Regions from separate parts of the Homo sapiens genome. Here region 1 is linked to region 2. The links come from fine-mapping of genetic effects on gene expression. Tissue or cell type: B cells. Region 2 holds a variant in brackets; the other region holds the start of a gene. All regions are shown on one strand. Distances are between the middles of the regions.

What was found. PIP is the estimated chance that this variant, and not a neighbour inherited with it, causes the effect.
Region 1: DNAJC15 starts here. The variant in region 2 is fine-mapped to the expression of DNAJC15 in B cells (Schmiedel 2018, PIP 0.95).

The regions. Positions count from the first base shown.
Region 1 is chr13:43,019,315-43,027,458 of GRCh38, reverse strand. It overlaps DNAJC15 (DnaJ heat shock protein family (Hsp40) member C15), which reads right to left and starts at 3,873. Exons shown (of 6, transcript NM_013238.3): 1 at 3,725-3,873. The coding sequence starts at 3,832. RefSeq lists enhancers at 3,375-3,424, 3,935-3,984, 3,995-4,054.
Region 2 is chr13:43,641,573-43,649,716 of GRCh38, reverse strand. The region is part of intron 2 of ENOX1 (ecto-NOX disulfide-thiol exchanger 1); the gene reads left to right. Among named protein-coding and RNA genes, the nearest start is that of ENOX1, 140 kb to the left of the region's middle. The variant C/T (reference allele first, on the strand shown) is at 3,482.

The DNA of each region.
Region 1 (8,144 bases), 620 kb after region 2:
TGTCTAGTTTTTTTTACATGTTACACTATCCTAATAATAACAAGAGTTGTGGGGGTGGGAGGAGGGAGAGCATCAGGAAGAATAGCTAATGCATGCTGGGCTTAATACCTAGGTGATGAGACAATCTGTGCAGCAAACCACCACGGCACACATTTACCTGTGTAACAAACCTGCACATCTAGCACATGTACCCCGGAACTTAAAATAAAAATTGAAGAAAAATAAAAGTAAGAGTTACAGTTTTCAGGAAAGTAATGGAAACTAAATGACTACCGTTTCATACAAACTGAGTTTTGTTCAAACTGCTTTAAAATTTGATAATAATCTCTTAAAGTTTCTTTTCTACTTTTCCATGAGAAACAGCTTTGCTAGTGCAAAGTTTGATTATGACTTCTATTAAACCATTAATTGTAAAATGCTAACTTTATTCAAGATGCTACATATTTTGCCTATTTTTAAAAATTATTTTAATCTCCTAAGCAGGCTAATGAACATTAGTTCTTAGTTTCAAAAGAGAAGCTTACCTAAGAAAAAGTTATTTAACAAATATGACAAGATATATTTATTTCTTTTTGATTTTTCTTTTAGAAAGACAGGGGTCTCACTATGTTGCCCACCCTGGGTCTTGAACCCCTGGGCTCAAGTAATTCTCCCACCTGACCTTCCAAATTGCTAGAATTACAGGCATGAGCCACCATGTCCAGCCCAACAAGATATATTTCATAAACCTTAAAATGAATTACATTTTTAAAATACAGTGTGAAAGTTTTTCTTTAACTCATTGACAAACATTATTTTCTATTTTCCATAAGATTTCCAAATATGCCCTACACCTAGGCCATTTTTTTTTCTTTCCTAATATTTACCTTTTGTCAGCTTCTCATTGCTTTCAGTACTTCCAAGTTCCCTAAAGTTATTATCAACAATCTTCTGCCTCATTATTGGTCATTGCCTGGACCAACAACTCCCAAAAGAAGCAGAACAACCCCTTAGGGACATTCTGAAAGTACGTGAGGCCCTGTTTGGTTGCACAATAATTTGAATAGAAGGGAGGGTATTTGGTGGATGGGGGACCATTGATCGTAGAAGTCCTAAAATATATGAGACAAGCCTGTGTAACAAAAAACTGTTTGCATCCCTCAATTTTAAAAGATTAAGTAGGTGAAAAGTTTATGATAATCTTAGTCCAGAACTTCATTATATATAAATATATCATTATTACACTGTTTTAGTACAGACTGAATCTTCCATAAGTGCAAGTGCCATGTAAATTGAGGGAGATTCCACTGTTTTGTTCAAGTTTTTACCAGAAATTGTTCACCATTTAGGAGAAATAAGTTTGTAAAGAACAATGGTCCTTCTGCTACTTGAAAAGCCAATATAATACATTTGATAAACAATTTGCATTGGTAGCTGTCACATACACAGTGATTCTACAAATTGGTGTAATATGACAGCAACTAATAATTACTTCATTATGTTTTCTAATGTAGTAATGTCTAAGTATTTACATATTTAAATTGTAGACATGTTAACATGTTATTTTCTTTTTTTTGAGACAAAGTCTCGCTCTGTCGCCCAGGCTGGAGTGCAGTGGCATGATCTCCGCTCACTGCAACCTCTGCCCCCTGGGTTCAAGCAATTCTTCTGCCTCAGCCTCCCTACTAGCTGGAATTACAGACTTGTGCTACCATGCCCAGCTAATTTTTGTATTTTTAGTAGAGACACGGTTTTGCCCTGTTGGCCAGGCTGGTCTCGAACCCCTGACTCAAGTGATCCACCCACCTCAGCCTCCCAAATTGCTGGGATTATAGGAGCGAGACACCGCTCGCAGCCTGTAGACATGTTATTGTCTAATAAAATATTTCACCTTTATGTCTCAATTAAAGCATTATATTGATTATTAAAAGTTATGTTTACAGGTAGATTTTATTGTCTATGAATCTGACTTCAGGATTTCAGGATATTACAGGACACAGACAGTTTGAGAATCACTGGCCTACACTTTAGCCTTCAAGTACCTGGACTACTAAAGATGCTTCCTATGTGGTACTCTGGATTCTGTAAACTCTCTCCTCTTCCAAGTAAAAATACCTACACATGTAAAAGTCACCAATATTAGTTCTATCTTCCAATTACCACAGCTCCCAACTACCTTGAAAGCCTGATACTCGGATTTTTACGACTCTCCACAAAAGGATTACTTCTGCCTGATCTTGTTCAGCTGTATCATACACTGAATACTATATCCAGAAATCCTTATTTCTAAGGAGTCAGCAAGTCATAAGGGAAAAAGTGTAGCATTTGGAATCGTAGATCTGCCACTTACCAGGGATGATCCTGGACCAGTTACTTAAAACTTTCTAAATCTCTACTGCCTCATTTTTTTTTCTTTGTTGGAGACAGGGTCTAGCTCTGTCTCTCAGGCTGGAGTGCAGTGGCGAAATCATAGCTCACTATAACCTCAACTCCTGGGCTCAAGTGATTCTCCCGACCCAGCCTCCCAAGCAGCTAGGACTACAGGCTCACACCACCACACCCAGCTAATTTTTTTTTTTTTTTTTTAGCAGAGATGGGGTCTCCTGTGTTGCCCAGGCTGTCCTCCAAACTCATGGCCTCAAGTGATCCTCCTGCCTGGGCTTCCTAAAGCGCTGGGATTACAAGCCTAAACCACCACTTGGGCAATATTTCATATTGAATGTTGAAAATTACCATGCAACTGTGCATATATCAGGTTAAAGAAAATACATGGTTAAAATCAAACCCACCTGTTTCTCTTCAGTTGTTTAATATGGCTACAAAAAACTTAAAAATATGCCGGACGCGGTGGCTCACGCCTGTAATCCCAGCACTTTGGGAGGCCGAGGCGGGCGGATCACGAGGTAAGCAGATCGAGACCATCCTGGCTAACACGGTGAAACCCCCGTCTCTACTAAAAATACAAAAAATTAGCCGGGAGTGGTGGCAGGCGCCTGTAGTCCCAGCTACTTGGGAGGCTGAGGCAGGAGAATGGCCTGAAACCGGGAGGCGGAGCTTGCAGTGAGCCGAGATCGCGCCACTGCACTCCAGCCTGGGCGACAGAGCGAGACTCCGTCTCAAAAAAAAAAAAAAAAAAAAAAAACGTAAAAATACGTATGTGGCTCACAATATGCTTCTGTTGGACAGTTTTCTGTTAGACCCTTCCTTTTTCCAGCTCTACAGTTCATCCTGAATACACCACTTGGAGTTTCCAACTGGGCCCTGTTTCTGTGCCGGAGACTTTGGAGACAGTAGTCCTGGTACCCGAAACACTTTTTCCCCTTCTCCTTGCTGAATGGACTGTTTTTATTCATTCAGATCTTAATTTTTAACTACAGCTTTCTCCAAGAAGCGTCCCTGATCCCACCACGTCCCCTGCAAGACGTTTTTAGGGCCTCCTATGAGATAGGAAAATCCACATACAGCACTTATTTTACTGTATTTGCAATTGCCTGTTTTCTGGTTTGTGTCCCAGACAAGACTGGAAGCTCCTTGAGGAGACAGATCCTCAGAACTGCTCCGTCTTCCACGCCCAGGCGTCAAAGCCCAGCACAAAGCGGTCTCTCCACTGAACAAGTGAGCGCTAGGGCACAGACCGTGAGCGAATGCGGGGGAGTACAAAGGTTCAAGGGTGAGGCGGTAGAGGGGGCTGAAGCAGAAACTACAAGGGAGCCAGAGAGGGGTGGGGGCCGCTGGCAGGACTCACCAGTCTCTGCTGGTCGACGTCGGCGTCTGGCCGTTTGGCCGAGGGCTGCAAGTACTCAGCGTAGCGCAAACTCTCGCCAACTGGAGCGATGACACCACGGGCAGCCATGGCAAGGCGGCCCGGAGACTCAAGGCGCCGCGGCAGTGACTACGAGGCGGCCGTAGGGACAAACTAGTTAGCGCGGTTTCTTCTCGCAGATCCAGTGGACTCTGCGCTCGTTGTGCTATTAAAGGCGAGGTTCCCGGAAGATACCCTTCTCACCCGAGCTGGGTAACGTGTCCCGTGCAAGCACGGGGTCACACTCCGAAAGGAGCCAAGGGCACTGGGACGTTCTTGAATCACACTCACAGGCGCAAAGCCAACGCGGACCCTCAGGGAGCTTTATATACTTGGGCCTGGTCCCTCCCCAGGCCGCCGTAAGGGACTGGGCTTAAGCCCTGCGAACTGATGTTGGTCGAATCAGATGACTGCCCAGTAAGCTCGGAGTCTAGCTGTAGTGCCTGAGGGTGGGCTTGCCTGAGCTTTCCTGACCCCCTTCCGGGCAGCCTTTCTTCCCACTCTCAACTTCTGTTCGCACTTCTGTTTAATGCCACAGTTCTACCACCCCGGGAGAGAAATTAAAGAGGCAATTTGCTTACTCCACCCCCAAGTAAATGGCTGTATTTAAGGTGAAATTACACAGAAGAAAGTTGTGGCCGGGTGCGGTGGCTCACGCTGTAATCCCAGCACTTTGGGAGACCGAGGCGGGTGGATCACACCAGCTTGGCCGACATGGTGAAACCTCGTCTCTACTAAAAATACAAAGATTAGCTGGGTGTGGTGGTGCGTCCCTGTAATCCCAGCTACTCAGGAGCCTGAGGCAGGGGAAAAAAAGTTGTGAGCAAGTAGGTAAATCTTACTCTCCCTCAAATGAGTTTGTGCTGATTTGTATATATAAAAGCCCATTTTATTATTAAGCTTTTTTTTTTTTTTGAGATGGAGTCTCGCTCTGTTGCCCAGGCTGAGTGCAGTGGCGCAATCTCTGGCTCACTGCACCCTCTGCCTCCCGAGTACCTGGGATTAAAGGCACGTGCCACCACACCTGGCTAATTTGTGTATTTTTAGTAGAGACGAGGTTTCACCATGTTGGCCAGGCTGGTCTCAAACTCCTGACCTCAGGTGATCCGCCCGCTTCAGCCTCCCAAAGTGCTGAGATTACAGGCGTGAGTCACCGCGCCTGGCCTCCATCAAGTTTTTAGAGCAAAAATTAACCAGCAGTTGAAGCGTATGGTGTTTTCCAACTTCTGTACCAACGTGGCAGCTCTTTGGCTCCTTATACCCTTTGCAAAATCAGCTGACAGGAAGAAAAAGCTTTATTTTTTTTCTATTCCTGAATTTAAAGTTTTGAGGGTCTATTAATTTGTTCACTTAGTTAATATTATTAGCATGTCTAAGAAGTTAGGTCCTAGAAATTTACAATCTTGTAGGGAAGATAACACTGACACAGAATAATAGTACATACCAGAACATGAGCACATGCATTGCATAGCAGTATAAAGAGAACTGGACTGGGAATTAAACCGCCATTGCAAAATTACAACTGAGAAAGAGATCTGACCTAATCAACACCATCTTGCTTCTAACCTCCAAGCTGTCTTGTACATTCCTGGCCGTAGGCCAAACTAACTTTGGGAGGAATGTAATTCATAGTTTATAGTTTGAAACAAAGATGATAAAAGCCCTTTCCCAAAACAAACCTCCTTCTTGCCTGGGGACTAGACTGCCTTTGTAGGACTAACAAATTAGCCACAAGATCAGAAATTATGACTTAGGAGTCATGCAGCTGGAGGCTACAAGATTCTGACCCTCCCCAAATTGCTGCTGGAGCTAACATCACTATTGTAAAAACTACCACCAGTGCTTGAGATATTTTGCAGACCCCGCACTTGATGAATCAGCTGGCATCACCCAGATCGATAAACTGGCTCATCTGATCTCGTGGCCCCCACCCAGGAACTGATAACGCAAGACAACTTGGACTCCCTGTGATTTCATCTTTGACCTGACCAATCAGCACTCCCAGCTCACTGGCTTCCCCCTACTCACCGAGTTGTCCTTAAAAATTCTGATCCCCAGCTGGGCGCGGTGGCTCATGCCTGTAATCCCAGCACTTTGGGAGGCCGAAGGTGGGTGCATCATGAGGTCAAGAGAGTGAGACCATCCTGGCCAACATGGTGAAATCCCATCTCTACTAAAAATACAAAAATTAGCTGGGCGTGGTGGGTGCCTGTAGTCCCAGCTACTCGGGAGGCTGAGGCAGGAGAATCGCTTGAACCTGGGAGGCAGAGGTTGCAGTGAGCAGAGATCGCGCCACTGCACTCCAGCCTGAGGACAGAGTGAGACTCCGTCTCAAAAAAATAATAATAATAAATAAATAAATAAAAAATTCTGATCCCTGAATGCTCTGGGAGACTGATTTGAGTAATAATGAAACTCCAGTCTCCTGCACAGTCAGCTCTGCATGAATTACTCTTTCTCTATTGCAATTACCCCGTCTTTATAAATTTGGCTCTGTCTAGACAGCCAGCAAAGTAAACCCATTGGGTGGTTACAGGAATAAGGAAGACATCTGAGTTCTAGTGTACCTCCATTATTTTCTGGGCTTGTATAACTGAACATATCCATTAACCTCTCCAAATTACCTGTAAAAGGAGAATAACATTTGTCCAACATTCTGACTCAGGGAAGTTGTGCAAACAAATATAAACCTCAAAGAACCAATCCTTCAAGATGGATCCCAAGTGGCTAACTAGGACTAACTTAAAATAGAGCCAAACCTTCCTTTTACACTGAAATCTGTGGCTCTCAGGTTTGCAAACTGTTTATTGGGATAGTCTCTCTCCTCTAAATTCCTTTTCAGAGAACTTTTCATTTACATAGGGATAAAAAAGAAAACGACAGGATATGGAAGCAACTTGTATAATGCACTTATGAAAAGAATTACAACCATAGTGCTCTTGGACTTTACAGGAGGGAATGGCCACTTTTAACAGGGGTCATCAGAGAGGTTTAGTGAAGGCTTAGCCATTGAGATGAGGTAAAGAATGGGTAACATTTCTTTAGATGGAAGAGAGGAAATGCCAGAAATTTCAACTGGAAACAAATGGAAGGAAATGAAAAACACTGATTTATAGGACTGGGTAAAAAATATTCCAGGACTCTTCACAGAAATAATCTCATTACAGAAATTAATTTTTGTTAAACGGATCCACGACTATGAAGGACACTAGTAAACTAAGCAAATGAATTGGATCAAGGCCTACAGGTCATTCTTCCATTCATTTATTTATTCAGTAAATACTTATTGAGTATCTGTTAGATATGAAGAACTATGCTAGGCATTGGACCTATACAGTCAAACATACAAATAAGGTCTCTGATTCCTTGGAGTTTGGAGTATTCTAGTGGCTGAGCCCTAGCAGTAACAGGCTGCTGGCCTGAAACAAATGAACAATTAGAGCAAGACCCAGCTTAGCTTCAGCTCCTGTTAGGGCAGCTACTGCCCCTGCTCAGGAACTGGAGAGAAGCTTTCAGAGCAGAAGCCAGGAAAAGGGGGAATAGAAGAAGTGGGAAGGGGAGAATATAGCAAGGTGGAGGTGAGGTGGACTCAGCAGGGTTGCATGTCAGCTCAGACCCCAAACTATTGAGATCAGATAGCTGGCTGCTTGTAGACTCGACTGACCTCATTCCACTGCTGCCTCAGGCATCCGCTCTTGCAGATGTAGCCAATTTTAAAGAAAAATCTCATCCACAAAGATTACTTAGTTCCCAGCCTTTGGTTCTTTGGTAAATTCACCCTCCTCAGCAAAGAAAGGATGGAAAAAAGGGCCATGAAGTCCTTTCCTCTCCCCCACAAGGATCTCTTCCTGATTTAGTTAAACTCAATTTTCTAGCTTCTTGAGAACAAAGAAAAATATTTTTGTGAAACCCAAAAGGGAGGCCACATTAAATTTTCATTGGCCTACTTTTATTAGTTACGCCACTTCAAAGACAGATTACATTATGTTCAATAGACTTTGTAAAAGAAAGGCAGATTGCATTGGTAGTATGTCTTCGAAACATCTCAGTGGAAAATGTTCTAAAAATTTATTGTTTGAAAGGAATTTTAACAAAGACAATTGACCTCTCTGTGCCTCAGTTTCCTCATTAGTAAAGTAGGTGATAATAATAGCACCTCTCTTGTAGGGATTAAATGAGTTCACTTTTGAAAAGCTCCTAGAACAGTGCTTGATACTTAGTAACTTCTACAAAATTGTTAGTTACTATTTTCTTTATGTTACCTCTTTCACCGATTTATTTCCTTGTGTATTTTCTCTCACTAGCTCTGCCTCCTTCCCCCAGCAGTTGTGTTGATCCCCAACCAATTGTCTTGTCTTTGAAA
Region 2 (8,144 bases):
CAGTGTGTGTGCTACTTTTGACCTCAATTCATAGAGAAAAAATGGATTGATGCTATGTCAGGGAAATGTCTTCTTCAAGGTCATAGAGTTATTATATGATGAAGTTGGAAATCAAATCTAGATACTCTGGCTCTAAAACCTGAGCACCATTCTTGGAATCAGTGAATTATCAAAGTGTGAACTCTGCACCTCTCACCCCCAACACAAAAGCCATCTTACTAGATATTGTTTATTTGTAAGTTCATTATATTAACATATACAACACTAGAAATGGTTAGAGTAGCTTCAGAATTGGATTCATTTTATGCCTCAGCTTAGCCCCTTCTCACACAGTAAGGCATCTGTAGAACAAACTAACCAGGGTGTGAAGGTAATTTGCGTTGCCCTGCATTGTTTGCGTGTGTCTGGGAACTCTGGGTTGAGACAGATTACTTGGATGTTCTAGTTTTACTTTTATAGACAACCTATGAAAGGGGTAATTATGAGATGTAATTATTGACACTATGACAACCTGAATAAAAATTGAAGTTGTTTGTACTATTTTCCCATAGATATTAGAGCAAGACATTACAATAAATGAATTGAGTGGCCTGTTTTGTGTGTGTATGATTTGGATATCAGAGACCATCATTCCTACATGATATGACACTTTATTTGCCACCTTCACGCTTTGACATTTTTGTCATAACTAAATGTGCAGTAGAGACAGCTGTGGTCTGCGTAGGCTCTAGCACTGTGTCTGGGTCTAACCCTGAGCAATGCATTTGGTTTCAGAGCCAGTGTCGCTGATACAGGTTGCAGCCAGCACAGGGAAATCTATCACAGTAACAGCAATGTAGCCGTCACAGGGAGTCTAACCACATCCATATTCAGATAAGGAGAACGCTGAGTACTCTCACTGAAAATGATATGCAGGGACTCTGGGATAATGCTGCCTTTACACTGTTCATAAAATATGGTAAAAATAAAGCCTTAAAAGTCATGCTTGTGAAGAGTGGAGACAGGAAAATTAGAGTAGCAATTCACACAGCACACTTTTCCTTGGAGTGAGAAGTCATATCAATTTCTCAAAAACAGGTATTTCACCTCTTACAGCATCCATAAGAAGGCTAGGTCAGCCACGAGTTAGTGGCTTATGAACTCTCTTGGACCTTTGCTTAGCTGGCAAATGTCATTTCTTAGCCTTCCATCCACCCAAATCTGGGGTTTCTGTTTCCCCAGCTCTGCCCTCTGTGTTCTCTATCTCATCATCTTATTTTATTTTCTTCACAGCACTTTCTACTGTTTGCAGTTATCTAATTTATTAATTGGCTGCTTAATCTCTATCTGTCAGCTTTGAGTTGTAAGCTGCGTGGTTGCAGAAGCTGACCATGGCTCTCTGGTTCACTGTTGTTTTCTGTAGCCCAAAGAACAGTGTCTGGGCTGTGGTAGGTGCTCAATATGAATAAAAAAGATGAATCAATGAATGAATTGGTGAGTAAATACATGCTTTCCTGTTGCTTAACCCTACAGAATAGTCCCAGTACTGGGTTATGATCTTTCCCTAGTGGAAGAATCCAGAGATTCTATTGTTGCCCTAATAAATTACCACAAACCCAGTGGCTTGAACAACACAGATGTATAGTCTTAACAGTTCTGCAGGTCGGAAGTCCAACACAGTTCTCACTGGGCTCAAATCAAAGTGTCAGCATGGCTGAAGACTTTGGGGGAGATCCATGCTCTTGCCTTTTCCATTTTCTACAGGTCACACACATTCCTTGGTTGTGATGCCTTTCTGTCTTCAAAGCCAGCAATGGTGGGTCGAGACCTTCTCATTCTGCCATCTGTCTGGTTCTCTACAGCTGAAAAAGGTTCTTCGTTTTTAAGGACTGATGTGATTAGATTGAGTTTACTTGGAAAATACAGGATAATCTCCCATCTCCAGGCCATTAATCATAATCACATCTGCAAAATCTATTTTGCCATATAAGGTAACATATTCATGGGTTCCAGGAAATAGACGCTGGACATCTTTGGGGGTTTGGTGGTAGTCATCATTCTGCCTGTCACATGGATTTATTCACAAAGGGGGTATAGGGATAGTCAAGCCCAAAGCCTCATTTCTCTTCCAGAATGTATATTGCAGAACAGAGAGTCTTCCTAAGTCATTTATTCATTCCACAAGAAATATTTGTGGAACTTGTCACATTCTTCTTGATAATTTGGTTCCTGATGGCAGAGTGAGCCTAGATTGCTGTTTTGCAGGGTTGGATATGGAGACCCTGGGGAAGTTCACCTGAATTCCTAACCAAGCCTGACAATCAGAAATTGGGCTTCTAACCAGAAAGGGATCAGTGTGTCTAAAAGGGACTCAAAGCAGTTGTAGTGGTAGCAATGGTGGTGTCAGATACAGTAGTTTATTTATTTTATTCAATCTTTATAATAATCCTACAATAGAAGCACTATTATTATCCCCATTTTACACATGATGACACTAAGGCACACAAAGGTTAAATAAATTGCCTAAGTGACTGAGCCAGGAGTGACTGGCTAATGAGTGAATGAGACAGGATTTAAAATCTCAGGCAATCTAGCTCTTGACTGTGTTCCCTAACCACTGCACTTCCCTGCCCCTTACAAGGTCCATTAGAGAGTAGCCAAAGACGCCTCTGAGAGGGCCAGAATGGGTGCTGAGACCATCTATTGGCCTCCTTGGTTTTGTGAAGTAGAGAGAACATGGAATGGTAAGAAGCTTCTGCTTCCTTGGTTACCAGATCTGGGCCTGGATCAAGCCACTTCAATTCATTGAGCCTCTGTGAAGAGAAAATAGAAATTTTGCTTGTCTGCATCTCTAGTGTGGGAGAAGGATAAAACGATTATTGAGACGTGCTCTGTAAACGTTGCCCGTTACTATCTAGTGTTGTATCCATCTAAATGATGAGGCGAGAAGGGAAAGTGAGTATGATCACCTCAGTGCCCCAAGACTCTATCTGGCTTTTGTCACCCTGGGGTAAACTGGAGAGCATGATTGAGACATGAAATCTTCCCATATCCTCTGTGAGAGAGGGTGATTGATGACAGGGATTTACAGGTTAGCCTGTGACAGCATGTAATCAATCAGCGCATGAGAAGGATAGCTTGTCTTTGGTGTACAGATGACGATTCTAATAACCCAACAGTGGCCACCAGAAGGAAAAGACTCCTGCGCTTGTCTTCACTTCCTTCATTTCAGTAGCTGCAGAGTCGTCAGGCAGTCCCAAGAATTTCATGTATGAAGATGGTATTCCTTAGTTTTGCCCTAACTGCGTGAGCACAAGTGACAGCTGTGAGTTCTGGGCTTTAGAGGGAGGAGTAAAAATTTACCTTGGAGTTAGCCAACATCTGCAAACACTTATTTAATCAATCATATAGAGCTGTCAAGAGCAGTGAGGAGTCTGAGATTTTAACCTGCCTGTGAAGTAACAAGTTAGCCTGCCTGATTCATACATGCTCGCAGAAGACA[C/T]GAAACTCCTGGATCAGACATAAAGGATGTTACTGCTCAATGCACAGCAGGCAGCATGGGCTACAAGCTCTCATCTTGTAGAGCTTGAGGGGAACCTCCCTTGAGGGCAATGCAGAGGGGGCCAGGTGGTTACTTCATACCTGTTGGATCTGTGTCACAACTGAGGAACACAGAGTTTAGGAAATAACCAGTCTTATAAACTGTTTCTGGCACACTTGCCCAGCCTTTGCCCTGGAGGAAGGCATTATCTTTGACTCTTGCCAGGAAACAAAATTATCCTCTGTCCTGGAGGAGGAAGACATAATCTTTATCCTCCCAGGCTGTTTGCTTTACAGACATCCTTGAATAGTAGTCTGAGACAAAAGGTACCACAGGGTAGAGAATTGTCACCCAATAGAAACTAGTGCATAATTAGCTAAAATAATGACCATAAAAGGTGTTTTTTAAATATGTAAAATTTTACAAGTGAATTTATATAATCTGAATTCTGAGAAGAACTATTTTCTAATTCTTTTCACTTACTGAGTTCTACTAAATAATTTGGAATAGGGATTCAACCAAACTTGTTGCTTAAATACTCAATTTCCATGGAGTTCAGAACTTCCAATGAATTGGTGATTAATTGATATTGTAATGAAAGATTGTTTACATAGAATGTGCAAAGGGCATATGATTGGTTGTCTCTTTAATCACCTTTAGTTACAGTAGTAAATGAAAGTATACATTTTGTACTTTGACAATGGATGATGCCAATTGAATCTTATTAAAGACTTCTGTGGCCGAGCACAGTGGCTCATGCCTGTAATCCCAGCACTTTGGTAGGCTCTGGTGGCAGGATCAGTTGAGGCCAAGAATTCTAGGCTGTGCTGGGCAATATAGTGAGAACTTACCTCTCTTAAAAAAAAAATTAACTGGACATCGTGGCATGCACCTGTAGTTCTAGCTACTCAGAAGGAGTTTGAGATGGGAGGATCACTTGAGCCTCAGGTATTAGAGACTGCCATGAGCGATGATTATGCCACCGTGCTAGTCTAGCCTGGGCACAGAGTGAAACCCTTCTCTAAAGATATAAATAAATAAATATTTTGGCTAAGAAAAACACACATTTTTCTTTGATTTCCATCATGATTTTTTAGCCAAATTCTTAATGGGAAAACTATTATTTGATACATGTTTCTTTATATTTGATTTTTAAATTAATTAATTTCCAAAATATGTTATCTTTAGTTATGGTTAATATTACAGACCTATCACTGCCTACCCAGTGTGTGGTCAGTGACAAATTGAACCCAAGTAACTCGTATAATCTATGAGATAACCAAAACCCAGATATGTTTTTTAGGCTTAAACTTGGTATAAGACCTGAAAGGTACTGTAAATGTTGGAAGAGCAAGGATCCATGTTCTGCCTGGGTTGGTGTAGTACTGTGAATATGGCTTTAAAGGCAGCTGGATCTGGATTGAACTCCAACTCTGCCAATTCCTAATTCTGCAATTTAACTAAAATAGATGAGCCTCAGCTTTCTTATCTGTAAATTGTATATAATGATTACTACATAATAGGATAGTTATGCAGTCCACATGAAATAAGTTATTTGAAGCTGCTACCTTCCTTTAAAAATGTAAAGAGAATATTGAAGTCAGTGCAGGACCATTATAAAGTTTATTTGATTACTTTCAGCTTGGGTGAAGCTTTAAATTCTTAGTTAAATTCCTTCGCTAAAGCATTCACTTATTGTCTATTATTTTTCTAGTTATCTAGATGCATTGGGGAATTAAAGTCGTCATTTAAAAATCATCCCATGGATATCAAAAGCTCATAAATTGTTAGATGCTAATGGGAAAGTCAAGAATCTGCTTCAACTTATAATTGTAGGCGTACACAGAGCTATCTAGGGAAATGCAAGGGTTGCCTTAAATTCCCAGAATAAAATACTTTGCAGATTTCAAAATATGTCACTCACTATAAAATTAATTATTTACCAGCCACTCACATACTAATCAGGGTTGAAAGTATGAAAGACCACAGGAAAGAATGGATGGTTACCTTTCTATCACAAGTGCTGGTACTAAGAAATAATGATAACTCACATGTGTGTGTGATGCCCTCAGTTTTATGGGAAATCGGGAACTGAATATTTTAAAACTAATTACAATTAATTAAGATGACTAAAAGAGCAATGGCAGTTTGGGATTCTATTTTTACCAAATTAATCTCTCCAGTGAAAAGTAGGAGAGATTTTAGACTTGACAAACAACTTAAAAGCTTTGCGATAGGAATGGAATGAGAAAGCACAATGAGCAGAATAATATTTAGTGAAATTATGTACTCCTTAAAATAAGCAGCTACTGTATTTTGCATGTAAAGGTAGACATGACTGAAGAGGTAGGGAGATGAGGAGAGGAAAGTTAATGTGTTTCAGCATTAACACATGATGGAAGATAAATGCCTTCTCTTGGTATGTAATCTTGATTTGCTGCTACTATGTAGAAAATAGCACTATATCACAGTGCCAGCTTATATTGATATATATTTATGTATATATGGATATTTATATGTATGTGCATGTATATATATATGTGTGTGTATATATATATATATACACACACACATACATACATATACATGCACATACATACAGGATGTCTTCAGATTATATATAAAATGTTAAGGGCTTTACTTAGTGGAGATTGGGTTAAATATTTACTTCTTGCTAAGTATTGCCATATGCCTAAACTTTTAAAATAGTAGCTATTCCAAAGGAAGAAATCAAACTAAACAATTGGGAAGATATATCAAATCTAGTTTCAATTGGTGGTTCATAGAGATAACTGGATAACACTGATGTTACTTCCCTGTTGTCCAGCTCATACTAAATAGGCATCTGTCATGAATGGCCAGGGTGCTGTGCTGGATCTGTCATGACTAAACTGATCACGATCATTAGTCTGTCTTCTTAGTTCATTCACAGCCAGGAGGTAGACGGTGGGGGAACACAAACACTATGTACCTACCCTCGGTCCTTGGCATCCAATGTAAGAGGTGAAGTTTCTGAATCTAACCCCTGCCCTCAAGAACCTTATGATACAGTAGGGGAGCTTGCACATTTGTGCGACAGGACAGTTGTAAACATGTAAATCAATAACAATTTTTCTTTATAAATAAAAAATGTTTTGAGTTAATTTTTACAAGTAATATTTTTCCTACATAATTGTAATTGTTTTACTTTGAAAGACAGTGAAATGACTGTTTCTTCCTCTTAGTTTTCCACTTGTATTTTTCCTTACATTGGACTGTATGATCATGGACACAAATATTAATATTTCATGCCTTTCAGTACAAACATAGCTGTAGTATAAATGAGGAAAGAGAATATCAGCTTACGTGAAGGAAGTTCAAATTCTGAGCTCTATTAGGCAGGAAAATTGATATTCCATTAAATAGAGTAGTTGAGGCTATAGCACGTTGTCTACACAAAGCTGTAGGATCAGCATTTTTTAGATAGTATCATGGATGAGTAGTTAATTAAGTAAAGGAATCCAATCCCAGTGGGATCTTGAGGGAAATGAAGTCTATACTTTCCTCTCCTTGAACATTGGGGCAAATTGGTCTTTGATTCTGTTGAAGCCATCTCTTGGGTGCTTCTGCCCTAAGTTCTGCTTCTGTTACTTTGAAAATCCTTTTTGTTGAAATGACCTTAGTGTCAGTGACACCTATCAGCTAAATTTAATTGCTTTTCTAAAAATACTGTCCTTTTTTCCCAATAATTACTTCAACTCACAGTTAGTTAAAGCATAACATGTTGGAAACTTTCTTGTTTAAACTCTTCCTATTCTTCACCTTATTGGTTAATTTATTTATTACCAATGACCAACTCAGTGTGGGTAGTATTTTTCTCAGCTTCCAGCTCCCAGCTTTCTTTCTTGATATGGCTGAATTTTGAGATACTCAAAGCAAGCAGACCATAAAGAGAGACAGATAAAACTGGACCTGGGTGTTCATATGTGTATGTGTGATTGTGTGTTGGAGGGTTATTATCCCTTTTTAAAGAACTACTTATAGGATGGTGGCAGGACCTTTGAAATTGCAGGCTGAATTGATTATTAGCATATGTAAATTTGGGTAAGTTATTAAGCAACTTTCAAAGTGTTTTTGTTTTCTCTTCTGTAAAATTAGGATGATAATAATATCTAATGATCTTGTTGTAGATTAAATGATGAAAAGCACCTTACAAAGTGAGTGTTACGTAGTAAGTAGTCAATAAATGTTAACATGACTATTATCATCATGTTGTTTCTATCTTGATTATTTGTATTTTATAGCTTTGTCAAACTGAAAACTTCCTTTTGTTTTGAAATATCTTGATAGACGCATGAGACTTCTTTTAAAAAAATTTAAAAAGTGGCCCAGCTTGGTGGCTCATGCCTGTAATCCCAGCACTTTGGGAGGCTGAGGCAGTTGGATCACGAGGTCAGGAGATGCAAACCATCCTGGCTAACACGGTGAAACCCCATCTCTACTAAAAAACACAAAAAATTAGCCGGACATGGTGGCGGGTGCCTGTAGTCCCAGCTACTCGGGAGGCTGAAGGAGAATGGTGTCAAACTGGGAGGCGGAGCTTGCAGTTAGCCAAGATGGCGCCACTGCACTCCAGCCTGGGCGA